Homo sapiens: one gene and its partners. The protein of the gene in region 2 purifies or fractionates together with the protein of the main gene of each other region. This does not show direct contact. Each region holds a gene or a part of one and is shown on either strand. Other genes may lie near its edges.

What was found.
Region 1: the proteins of GCM1 (region 2) and PABPC1L purify together in Homo sapiens (affinity purification with mass spectrometry; one large-scale study listed by BioGRID and IntAct). This does not show direct contact.
Region 3: the proteins of GCM1 (region 2) and DLX3 purify together in Homo sapiens (co-immunoprecipitation; one study listed by IntAct). This does not show direct contact.

Annotation. Positions count from the first base shown.
Region 1 is NC_000020.11:44,923,422-44,927,143, reverse strand, and holds part of PABPC1L (polyadenylate-binding protein 1-like), read right to left. Parts: intron 2,984-3,722; coding exon 2,888-2,983; intron 1-2,887. UniProt on the Homo sapiens protein: Poly(A)-binding protein involved in oocyte maturation and early embryo development. It is required for cytosolic mRNA polyadenylation and translational activation of maternally stored mRNA in oocytes.
Region 2 is NC_000006.12:53,138,801-53,142,522, reverse strand, and holds part of GCM1 (chorion-specific transcription factor GCMa), read left to right. Parts: intron 1-3,722. UniProt on the Homo sapiens protein: Transcription factor involved in the control of expression of placental growth factor (PGF) and other placenta-specific genes. Binds to the trophoblast-specific element 2 (TSE2) of the aromatase gene enhancer. Binds to the SYDE1 promoter.
Region 3 is NC_000017.11:49,992,425-49,996,410, forward strand, and holds the start of DLX3 (homeobox protein DLX-3), read right to left. Parts: upstream 2,801-3,986; 5' UTR 2,575-2,800; coding exon 2,250-2,574; intron 1,167-2,249; coding exon 976-1,166; intron 1-975. UniProt on the Homo sapiens protein: Transcriptional activator. Activates transcription of GNRHR, via binding to the downstream activin regulatory element (DARE) in the gene promoter.

The DNA of each region.
Region 1 (3,722 bases), on a different chromosome or scaffold from region 2:
GAGGCTGAGGTAGGAGGACTGCTTGAGCCCAGGAGTTCAAGACAAGCCTGGACAACACAGCAAGACTCCCAATTTCTACCAAAAAAAAATTTTTTTTTAAATCAGCTGGGCATGGTGGCACATGCCTGTGGTCCCAGCTACTTAGGAGGCTCAGGTGGGAGGATCACTTGAGCCCAGGAGGTTGAGGTTGTGGCGTGCCATGATCACATCATGGCCCTCCAGCCTGGGCAACAGAATAAGAACCTGCATCTAATAAAAAATAATAATAAACCAAAATATATAAAATCGCATAACATAGGCCAGGCACAGTGGTTCACGCCTATAATCTCAGCACTTTGGGAGGCCAAGGCGGGCAGATCACCTGAGGTCAAGAGTTCAGGACCATCCTGGCTAACATGGTGAAACCTCATCTTTACTAAAAATACAAACATTAGTAGGGCTTGGTGGCGGGCGCCTGTAATCCCAGCTACTCAGAAGGCTGAGGCAGGAGAATTGCTTGAACCTGGGAGGCAGAAGTTGTAGTGAGCCAAGATCGCGCCATTGCACTCCAGCCTGGGCGACAAGAAGGAAACTCTATCTCAAAATAAATAAATAATTGTATAATATATATATATATGTAGGCTGGGCGTGGTGGCTCATTCTTGTAATTGCAGCACTTTGGGAGGCTGAGGCGGGCGGATTACTAGGTCAGGAGTTTGAGACCAGCCCGGCCAACACAGTGAAACCCCGTCTCTACTAAAAATACAAAAATTAGCTGGGCATGGTGGCAGGTGCCTGTAATCCCAGCTACTCAGGAGGCTGAGGGAGAAGAATCACTTGAACCCGGGAGGCGGAGGTTGTAGTGAGCCGAGATGGCGCCACTGCACTCTAGCCTGGGCAACAGAGCTAGACTCCATCACACACACAAAAAATAGATATATTTATAATCCCCATTTTATACCGTTTGTCCTGTTAAAAAGATGGTCACCCCAGGTGTGCCTTAACTCTAAGCAATCCAAATTTACACATTTCCTTTGTTCGGGGAGTCCTCAAGAAGGTCCATCTCCTGAAGCTGTATGCAAGGTGTATGATGAATCATTACGACAATCACTATTTCACTACTTATTGAATGCAGATGCTGTACATGCAGCCTCTTTAGTAGTTCTTAGGACACCTGGAGAGGTGAGAAATGTTGCTCCCACTTTATAGGTGAGTAAACAAGGTCCGAAAAGCAAAGCCACTTGCCTCAGTTTCTACAGCTAGGTAATGGTAGGACTGGGGTTTACATTTAAACCTGATTAACTTTAAAATTCCAGCTTTCAACCATGTTTCTACATCAAATGTATATGCATTTGCTTGGAAAGAGGACCTATAGCTTTTTATGATGTGTAATCAAATTTACTGATGCCTAATTTACATGTGCCACAGCCTTCTCTCGCATTTTTCAAAAGGATCTTAACCTAAAAGACAACCTTTTTTCCTCCAAACACAAGGCTCCCTGAAGGATGTTTACAACTGGACTCAGTAGCCAAAAGAGAACTTCTAGACCACTTCCTCAGAACCCAACATCACATCATTCAGGCGGGTCCCCCCATCCTGTCACTCACACTGATCTCTTTGGAAAATTCCTCATTCCCACTCCAGCTCCCTACCTCCTCACAGCCAAGTCAAACACTGCTGCTACTGCCACTTCTTCCAGGCAGCCTTCCCTTCTGTTCCACTGAACTCCTGTAGCTTTGCCTCCCATACTGTCCCCCATCTTATAATCCATTTGAGTTAGTGACGGGCTGACTTCCTCACTAGACTATAAGCTACTTGAAAGCAAGGATCACATCTGATTTGCTCCTGTTTCCCACAGAGCCTGGTAAAACAGCAGGTATTTAAGTATAGAATGAAGAAACACTGGATCATCATCTTAAAAACCATCTGGGCGCTTTTTTTTTTTTTTTTTTTTGAGACAGAGTCTCGCTGTTGCCCAGGCTGGAGTGCAGTGGCACGATCTTGGCTCACTGCAAGCTCCGCCTCCTGGGTTCATGCCATTCTCCTGCCTCAGCCTCCGGAATACCTGGGACTATAGGCACGTGCCATCATGCCCGGCTAATTTTTTGTATTTTTAGTAGAGATGGGGTTTCACCGTGTTAGCGAGGATGGTCTCGATCTCCTGACCTCATGATCTGCCTGCCTCAGCCTCCCAAAGTGCTGGGATTACAGGCGTGAGCCATATTGCCCAGCCTCTGGGAGCTTTAAAAAAAAAAAATAAAAAGCCCAGGCCCTACCCCGGGGATCCACATTCTATGCCTGACTGAGGTGTGTGTATTTAAGAATTGCCCAGGGGGTTGTAATGAGAAGCCAGGGTCGGAAAGCCATCCAGTGAGCCCAGTGTCCTTATCTATAAGACAACATCTGCTAAAGCTCATAGAGCTGCTGATGGGCCAGTTGCCACATCTCAGGGGCCTAACAGGGTTGGGCACACAATTGGTGCTCCAGAAATAGGGAAGAACAAATGAAGAATGACGAAGTCCAGCCCTCTCACTTTCCAGATGGGAAAACGGAGGCCCAGGAGGGTAATGTCACTGGCAGAGGCCAGACAACAAAAGTCAATGGAAATACTAAGATATGAATTTCTGGAATCTGGCATACAGTAGGCACTCAATAAATGCCAAGGTGACAGTGAGCCCCAAGTCCAGCTGTGTGACTGGGACTATATTTCTACCCTCTTCCCCTCCAGCCCAGACAAGGCTGCAGATGGCTACAAGCTCCAACGGGGTCAGCAGAGCCCCAGAAGGGGTAGCCGGCACCAACCCCCTGAAGGCTGCTGGGCGAGAGGGTGGAGGGGTGGGGTTGTGGGGGGATGGTGGTGAGAGGATGGAGGGGAACGCTGTCCCCCGGAGGTGCCCCCAGTCCTCACCTTCGCACTGGTAATTACTCCATAGGGAGAGAACTCTTTCCTCAGTTTGTCGTCATCAATGGAGTCGTCCAGATTCTTCACATACAAGTTCACACCCTGGGATGGAAGGGAAACTGCTGGATGTCCCCTTCTCCTCCAAGCCCCAACTGCCTTGGGGAGATCAGGGAACTGACGCAGGTACAAGGGGCATGGGGAGCCCCACCAGCCCAGCCTCCTGCTCCCCGTCTCCCTCAGCACCCAGGTACCCCCATCCCTCAGCGTGCCCATCACATGCAAGCTGTAGCCCCCACATCCCAAATTCCCCTGCAGTTCTCACACATCTGCACTGGTCCCAGCCTCACCACAGCTATTCCCCATTTCACAGATGGGGCCCACGAGGATGTCCCAGGTCCCGTGGCAGGCTGAGGTGCAGAGCATGCCCAAGCCAAGCTCTCCAGATGGTGGATGTCGGGCAGCAGGAGTCAGAGCTCCTCCCTGGCTGGCCCATGACCAGAACCCTAACACAGGTGAGCTGCCCCTCCATCCCCTGCCAGCCCAGGAACCTCGGGCACTTACTCATGTTGGTGCCAGGTGCCACTCTAAGCTTTCCCATACATTTTGATTTTTTTTTTAAGACTTTTTTTTTTTGAGATGGATTTTTGCTCTTGTTGCCTAGGCTGGAGTGCAATGGTGCAATCTCGGCTCAGTGCAACCTCTGCCTCGCGGGTTCAAGTGATTCTCCTGCCTCAGCCTCCCAAGTAGCTGGGATTACAGGTACGTGCAACCAGACCCAGCTAACTTTGTATTTTTTAGTAGAGACGGGTTTCTCCTTTCTCCATGTTGGTCAGGCCAGTCT
Region 2 (3,722 bases):
AGTTACATGGAATTTTAATAGGTACTGTGAAGAAAGAAAAAGAGCAATACGAAGTTCAACAAGGATAAACAGATTTCTTGACTGCAGGCTTGGAGTCTTTTTCACCATCCTGTGCATTGGTGGCTCTCCGAAGGAGGCTGTATTAGGCAGTATTACCCCAACTTATTTTTGACCATGAAACTTTTTTCCTGAAGCCCTTCAGGGGTTGATGTTCCCCAGACTACCTTTTTTGGCATTTAACAAATGTGGTTTAAAGGATCAAATGCAATGGCTTGTTATGATTATAAATTTCTCTAATTTCACTCTCTGTCCCATCGATCTAGATCATTTATAGTTTATATTTCATAATTTTATATTCTTGCCAGAATTATTAGTTATACAACACGTAGGAAAATTCCTTTTCTGTTTATCCTTTCACATGCTTCAAGTTTCAAGTTTCTTTCTCTCTCCTTCCTTCCTTCTTTCTTTCTTTTTCTTTCTGTTTTTTTTTTTTTTTTTTTTTTTTTTTTTTTTTTTTTTTTTCAGGGTCTCACTCTCATTACCCAAGCTGGAGTGCAGTGGCGCAATCATAGCTCACCACAGCCTTGAATTCCCGGGCTTAGGTGATTCTCTCAACCCAGCCTCTAGAATAGTGGGGACTACAGGCGTGCACCCCACACCCAACTAATTATTTGTCTTTTTAGTAGAGATGGGGTTTTGCCATGTTGCCCAGGCTGGTCTCGAACCCCAGGACTCAAGAGTTCTGCCCACCTTGGCCTCCCAAAATACTAGGATCACAGGCATGAACCATTGCACCCGGGCTTCAAGTTTCTTTCTTTCTTTCTTTCTTTCTTTTTCAGACAGAGTCTCGCTCTGCTGCCCAGGCTGGAGTGCAGTAGCACTATCTCGGCTCACTGCAAGCTCCACCTCCCGGGTTCACACCATTCTCCTGCCTCAGCCTCCCAAGTAGCTGGGACTACTTGCACCTGCCACCGTGTCCGGCTAATTTTTTGTATTTTTAGTAGAGACAGGGTTTCACCGTGTTAGCCAGGATGGTCTCGATCTCCCGACCTCGTGATCCACCCACCTTGGCCTCCCAAAGTGCTGGGATTACAGGTGTGAGCCACCGCACCCGGCCCTTCAAGTTTCAAAATGATTACCCAAATACCAGTTGCATCTTCTGGTCTGAGAAACTCCATGTGTCTTTAACTAGTTCAGATACATCAAGGTTTATGGGTTAATTTTGACAACAGTGAGCAGTGATGTCCTTACTAAGATATCAGACATTTTTGAGAAACTTAAATGCAGGAGACACTGTAGTAGGCTCAGGGATACTGGGGCCATTAAGCTATGTTAACTTCTGTGGAAATGCTCATGATCTTCTGGGCTAGTGGAACAAGATTACTGCCTAAATAGAGAATCAATGCCATGTAGAAAAATGCTAGAGGAGTTTGAAAGGAGTGTGCAGTTCAACATGACTCTGGCATGGGGAGCAAGGCCAGAAGAGTTTGTGTAAGGTTAGAGGAAAAAAAAATTAGATCAACCATCTATTATTTATGTCATTATTTGTACTTGGAAAGGTGAAATCTAATTGCTTTAAGGTTTGCTTGATCCAAGCAGCAAAAGTCTGGTGTTGATTTAGTCTTGATTTAAAATGTGGATTACATGGTCCTGGAGAGTGTCACACTCTCATTAGTACTGATTGTAATACTTGAGAGAACTTTGAATCTCTAAGAATTATTTTCTTCTGGTTGAAAATTGGGAAGAAATTCAGTTCCTTTTTCTCTTAAATAGTACCCATTTCACTAGCAAGAGGAGAATATCCACTCTGTTTCAAATACCAGCCAGTTTCTCTCAGTTCAGGTTGTGCCAATAGCACCACAGCCAGCAAACACCCTGGATCATTTTGTTCCTACACACTGAGCAGTTTGCAAATTAAACCCATGGCCAAAGCCACCCCAAGCCATTAACTCACAAAATTACAAGGTTTAAGTACTTTTTTTTTTTTTTTTTGGTAGAGAGAACATTCTCTAGTATAGAATAGTAAAGTCAACTGCAAAGGGGCCACAGTTCTGATTAGTTCATTCCTGGACTATGATTTTAGCCAGCCAAACTTCCTTTGTCTCTGCAAAAGATAAGCCCCAAATTGTGATCAAACATGAATATTTGAGCTCTCTCTGTGAATCCATGTGGCCACATGTAATCAGAACAAGCCAGTTGTAGTACTCAGATGTGTCTTGGTGCTAGGGAGCTAACAGGTAAACCAGATTGTGGATTTCTTGTCAATTATTATCCCCTGTATGAGCAGGTCACGTTGTCATTGTTCTGATGGGGATTCCTGTGACTTTGCCCCCTTTGCCAGACATTCTCCTTGACCTCAAGGGTCATTTGAACTTCCCTGAGAGCTCTACCTATATGGGCTCCCATGATCACTGGGGCCTCTGCTATTTGGACCAGAATTCTTCTGCCACTCTGTGCTTCTGGTGTGATACAGATAGGAGCATTATTGCATCTGCTGGTACCCTGCAGCAGGTCCCTTGCTTAGCTGGGTGGAGGGAAAAGGGAAGCGAAAAGAGAAGACAGACGGGGTTTGAAAGCTGAGGTAACTTGGCATAACTTAGTGTTTTCAGAGTAAATAAGGAACTTTGTCCTGAGTCTTATTTTATTTATTTATTTATTTTTTTAGACGGAGTCTCACTCTGTCGCCCAGGCTGGAGTGCAATGGTGTGATCCCAGCTCACTGCAACCTCTGCCTCCCGGGTTCAAGCGATTCTCCTGTCTCAGCCTCCCGTGTAGCTGGGACTACAGGCATGTGCCACCATGGCTGGCTAATTTTTGGTATTTTTAGTAGAGATGGGGTTTCAAGATCAGGATGTTCTTGATCTCCTGACCTCGTGATCTGCCCACCTCAGCTTCCCAAAGTGCCGGGATTACAGGCCTGAGCCACCGCGCCTGGCCTGTCCTGAGTCTTGATCTCTTGACTAAGAAATACCAGGATTAGTCTAAAGAGTAATCAGTAATTCCCCCTTTTTTTTTTTTTTTTTTTTTGAGATGGGGGTCTTACTATCTTGCCTAGGCTGGTCTTGAACTCCCGAGCTCAAGCAACCTTCTGCCTTAGCCTACTGGGTAGCTGGGATTACAGACATTCCCCACCATGCCTGCCCTAAGGAGTAATTCTTGAACAAACACAAAAGCATTTTGTTGAATTCAATTTTTTTCCTTGGTAACACTTGGAGTTTTATTTCCAGTTGGCCCAGAAGAGATAAGTTCCTGAAAAGTTGTATGTAAATCAAAACATTGGTTGAAGGTTTTTTTTCCTGTTTTCCATAATATCTGATTTTTGTACCTCTATATAATTTGCTTTAAAGTATGTTTGTTTGATATTCCTGTTCTATTTAGAAATATTTATTTATAAGTAATGAATAAGCTATTTATATAATTAATGAAAACCTGGAAGATATTTACTTTATGCAAGAGCAGACTATATTCCAAAAGAAAATCAATTTCATAATATGATCATATGATAATGTAGATATTTTTGATACTTTATTTCAGAATTTGTATTTTAATTGATTAGTTTTATATAACAATACATACTTCATTTCTTCAGATAACCTCTGAAAACTTCAAGTAGTTGAATAAGTTAGAATGAGGTGAGTATGAAGGGTGTTCTAGAAGTGCATAGAGCTACAAAAATTTTGATTGAGTTAGAGGATTAAATCTGTTAGTAAAAAATTATACCC
Region 3 (3,986 bases), on a different chromosome or scaffold from region 2:
GCAGACACAGATACACCCAGATAAGCACCCCACAACATGAGCACCCACATTCACACACTCAGGTGTGGAGAAGTTCTCCTGGGCTCGGGCTGGATAATGGGGGTGACCTGGGGACTCAGGAGCAGGTGAGCCATGATTCCCCAAATTTCCCCTGGGGTATCTCCCCCTCCCCCTGCCACTCCCCACCCCATGACTGGTACAAACAATGAATCAGCTCCTCACCAGGTGACCCAGATTCCCGGCGGATGGGGCCCCACGCAGCCACAGCCACAACCTAGGCCCGCCTGTCAACACCTGGAGGGAGCCAGGCATCCACTGCTCCTCCCCTGAGCAGTGACAGGCTGCTGGGGGCTTTAGGGACTGGATGAGGGTGGGGGTGCGGCACTCACTTTTGAGTCCCCATCTCCTTCAGGTAGGGAATTTGGCCTCTCTTGAGCGTTCAAGTGCTGAGCAGGAATGTGGTATTTTGATGCAAGCACACATTTCTGAACATGCATTCAGAACGCATATACATTCAGGGCGCACAGTCACACACACATGCCCCCATCGTTATGCACAATGACCCCGGCAGGATCACACTCCTTACATGAGCATCCTCCGGTGCATGCAGACCCACACAGCATGTGTGCAAACACACTCGCCTATACATGCACACAGACAGTCTGCACACATGCCTAGCCTGGAGGGAAAACACGATGTGGACTCCTACTAAGTGACTAGCACTGCTGGGGGACTTGGGAGCTGGGAATTCTGGAGTAGGGGAACATACACAGTTGCACGGGTTCACAACTATGCTCACTTGTACACGTGCTAACGCAGAACCTTCCCACCGAAGTTGAACCTCGCAGGCCCCCATCCCAAAGGCAAGAGTTCCAGGAGCCCGCAGGGCCCTTCAGTGGCCAGCCAGGCTCGGCAGCGCGCGGGGAACTACGGGGTCCCGCGCGCCCCCGCGGCCCTGGACAGCCAAACACCAACCTGTGTCTGCGTGAGGCCCAGCTGCGCGGCCAGCTCGGCGCGCTCGGGCAGCGCCAGGTACTGGGCCTTCTGGAAGCGGCGCTGCAGGGCGGCCAGCTGGTAGCTGGAGTAGATCGTACGCGGCTTTCGGACCTTCTTGGGCTTCCCATTCACCATGCGCACCTCTGCTTCCGGCTCCTCCTTCACCGACACTGCGGGGAACGCACCGGGCGGAAGAGGGGGCGGTTCAGCCTCGGCCTGCGACTCCTGCGACCCTCCAGGGCCCCGCCGGACGCCCCTCGCTTCCGCCCACCGACTCGCCGCGGGATTCCCGGCCGCGCGCTCCGCTGCCCGCGGCCCAGGGGGGAGCCGCGGCCCCAGAGCCAGAACTGGCCGCGGCCCACAACGCGGCGCTCCCAGCTCCGCGCCCGGCCGCCGCAGCACTGTCCCCGGCGCCAGCCGCCGCCTGCGCCAGGACCGCCTCGGCTTCGCTCACGACGCCTTCCCGGCTCGCCTCCCAGCCTCGGGGCTCCTCGCCGCCCGGCTGCTAGCCGCCCCCTTCCCAGTCCCATCTCGCCGTCGGTTGTTTCTCTCGCTCCTTCCCGTCCGCCCCCCGCCCTTTAAAAAAGTTTCATTTTAGAATCTCTTTAGATTTTCAGAAAAGTTGCAAGGATAGTGCAGACTTTCTTTCTTTCCCTGTCCCCCTTCTTCCCCCCTTCCTTCTCTCCTTCCTTTCTTGTTTCTTCTGCCCTTTCTCTCACTGTCTTTCCATACTTCCCTCTTGCTGCCTTCACTTTTCCCTTTTTCAGCTTCTCTGCCTCTCGGTGGCTGCTTCCCTCCGCTTTCCCGCAACTTCCGTGGGTCCTTCTCATTGCCCCCTCACGACTCCTAGTCTCCCCATCCCTTATCCAAAGGAGGGCCCCTAGAGTTTCCAGCCCCTGCCGCCTACCCCCAAGCCCTCTGCGACTTGATCGAGGATCGCCTGCTGAAATGCCCACGAAATCACCTCGATTCGGAGGTTTCCTAACAACCCACAGCCTTCCCCTTCCTCTCTCAGCTCATCCCGATCCTCATCCGGGACCGCGGCGCACTGCGCACATCGCGCCCCAAATGCTTGCACACCCGGGGCTGGAAGGTCGCCTGGTCCCTCTGAGGGTCATCTAGGCCAACTTCTCTAACTCCAGACAGTACTTTTCTTAGAAGTTTTCCTAGATTTTGGCTTCCAGTCCATGCCTTTTCCTCCCTCGGGAACCTTCCAGTGTCTCCCACTGTCCTCGCGACCCCGTGGCCCTCACCTGGGTCCTGGGCTGGCAGCGGCTGCTCCCGATACGCCCCGTATTGCCGGTAGGAGGCTCCGTAGGTATATTCCGACTTGGGCGAGTAAGCGCCCGTGCCTGCAAGCCCATTGAGATTGAATTGGTGGTGGTAGGTGTAGGGGTTCACCGTCTGGCCATAGGGCTGGCCCGAGTAGTAATCGTGCTGGGGAGCGCTGTAGTAGCCCAGGTCAGTGACAGAAGACTCGGGCAGGGTAGGCGAGTCCTTGGAGCCCGCATGGCAGCTAAGGGAGCTGGAGATGTCGGTGAGGATGCTGCTGAGCTTGCGATCGAAGGAGCCACTCATCCTGGCGGGCGCTGCACCTCCCCAGGGCTGGCCTCCGCAGAGGACAGGAACGGACCGGAGTGCGAGAGAGGCGGAAGAGACGAGGCAGGGGTGTGTGTCCAGAAGGCGAAGGGAGGACCCGGCCGCGTCTGGGGGGAGGGGGAGGCCGAGAGGCGCTTACACCATTGCCTGCCGTCAGGCGGTCGCTGCGCGCCTCTCCTCGCGTCCCAAGCCACAATCAAATGCTGCCAGCTCCGCCCGGCCAGCCGGTTATAGACTCAATAGTGGAGTCGCCGAGGGAGGCTCCTACGCGCTGATTGGCTGCAAGTCTTGCCTTCCAGGCAAAACACGCTTTTGCTCTCTCGCTCCTATGCTCTCCTCTCTCTCTCTCTCTCCCTTTTCCTTCTCTCCTCCCTCCTCTCTCTTCTTTTTCCCCAGTCTTTGTTGTTACTCAAAACACACACACACACACACACACACACACACACCCTCGCTACTCTTGTAGCTCCAGCCCAGATAAGTTCTCTGAAGGAGGGGCGTGGAGGTGGAGGGGAAGGGTTGCTCTGTGGAGCCCCCAGGATCTGTCAGTCTGTTTCTCTGGCTGGGGGATGAGAGATGGGCTTAGGTGAGGTGGGCAAGGAGGGGAGTTTGCCCATTGTGTGTTTGTGGAAAGAGATGGTCTAAGGTGGGGTATGGTTGTGTGTGTGTGCACACGTGTGCACGCACTGTGCAAATGACAGGCACACAAATGTACCCAAAGTGGTGAGGACTCACAGCCCCTGAAAATGGTTTCTCTTAAAATCAGAAGAAAAGGAAAACACCTTTTAGGTGAAAGAGAATGTTTGAATATATGATATTAATATATTATCTTAATAGCAATGCAGTCATTGCTATTATATCCTTGTATTACATAATTACAAAAACGTAATTTAAAAAATTTTCTTTTTATTTAGGAAGGTGCCCACCGGGCAAGAATGTCTTGAGCCTATGAAAGACATAATTTAGCACTAGGAGGATCCTATTGGAGAAGGGGAAGCAGACCTGTGTGGATTTAGAGGTTGTTGGGGATGTACAGCCTGTCCGGTGATACCAGAACTATCTCCAAAGCTATGTATGTGCAGTTTCACAGATGGCCCAGTCTTGCTGAAGGTAGCAAGGGACCTGGGGTCCCCACGAGGTTGGGTGGACACAGGCTGGCTCTGTGACTGTGTGCTTCAGTAAGTCTGAGGGCAGATTTTGTGTATCATGGGACAGCACTGGGGAATTGGGACACTTTTGGGGACTGGGTGCATGGGACGAGTGTATTTGGGGTGTGTGATGTGAGGATTTCATGTGTTCCACAGTATCCACAGAGGTACATGCATGCAGGAGTGTGTCGGGGGCGGGGTGCAGGCAGCATGAGTGGAGGGCCATCCGCGTGTGAACATGTGGTT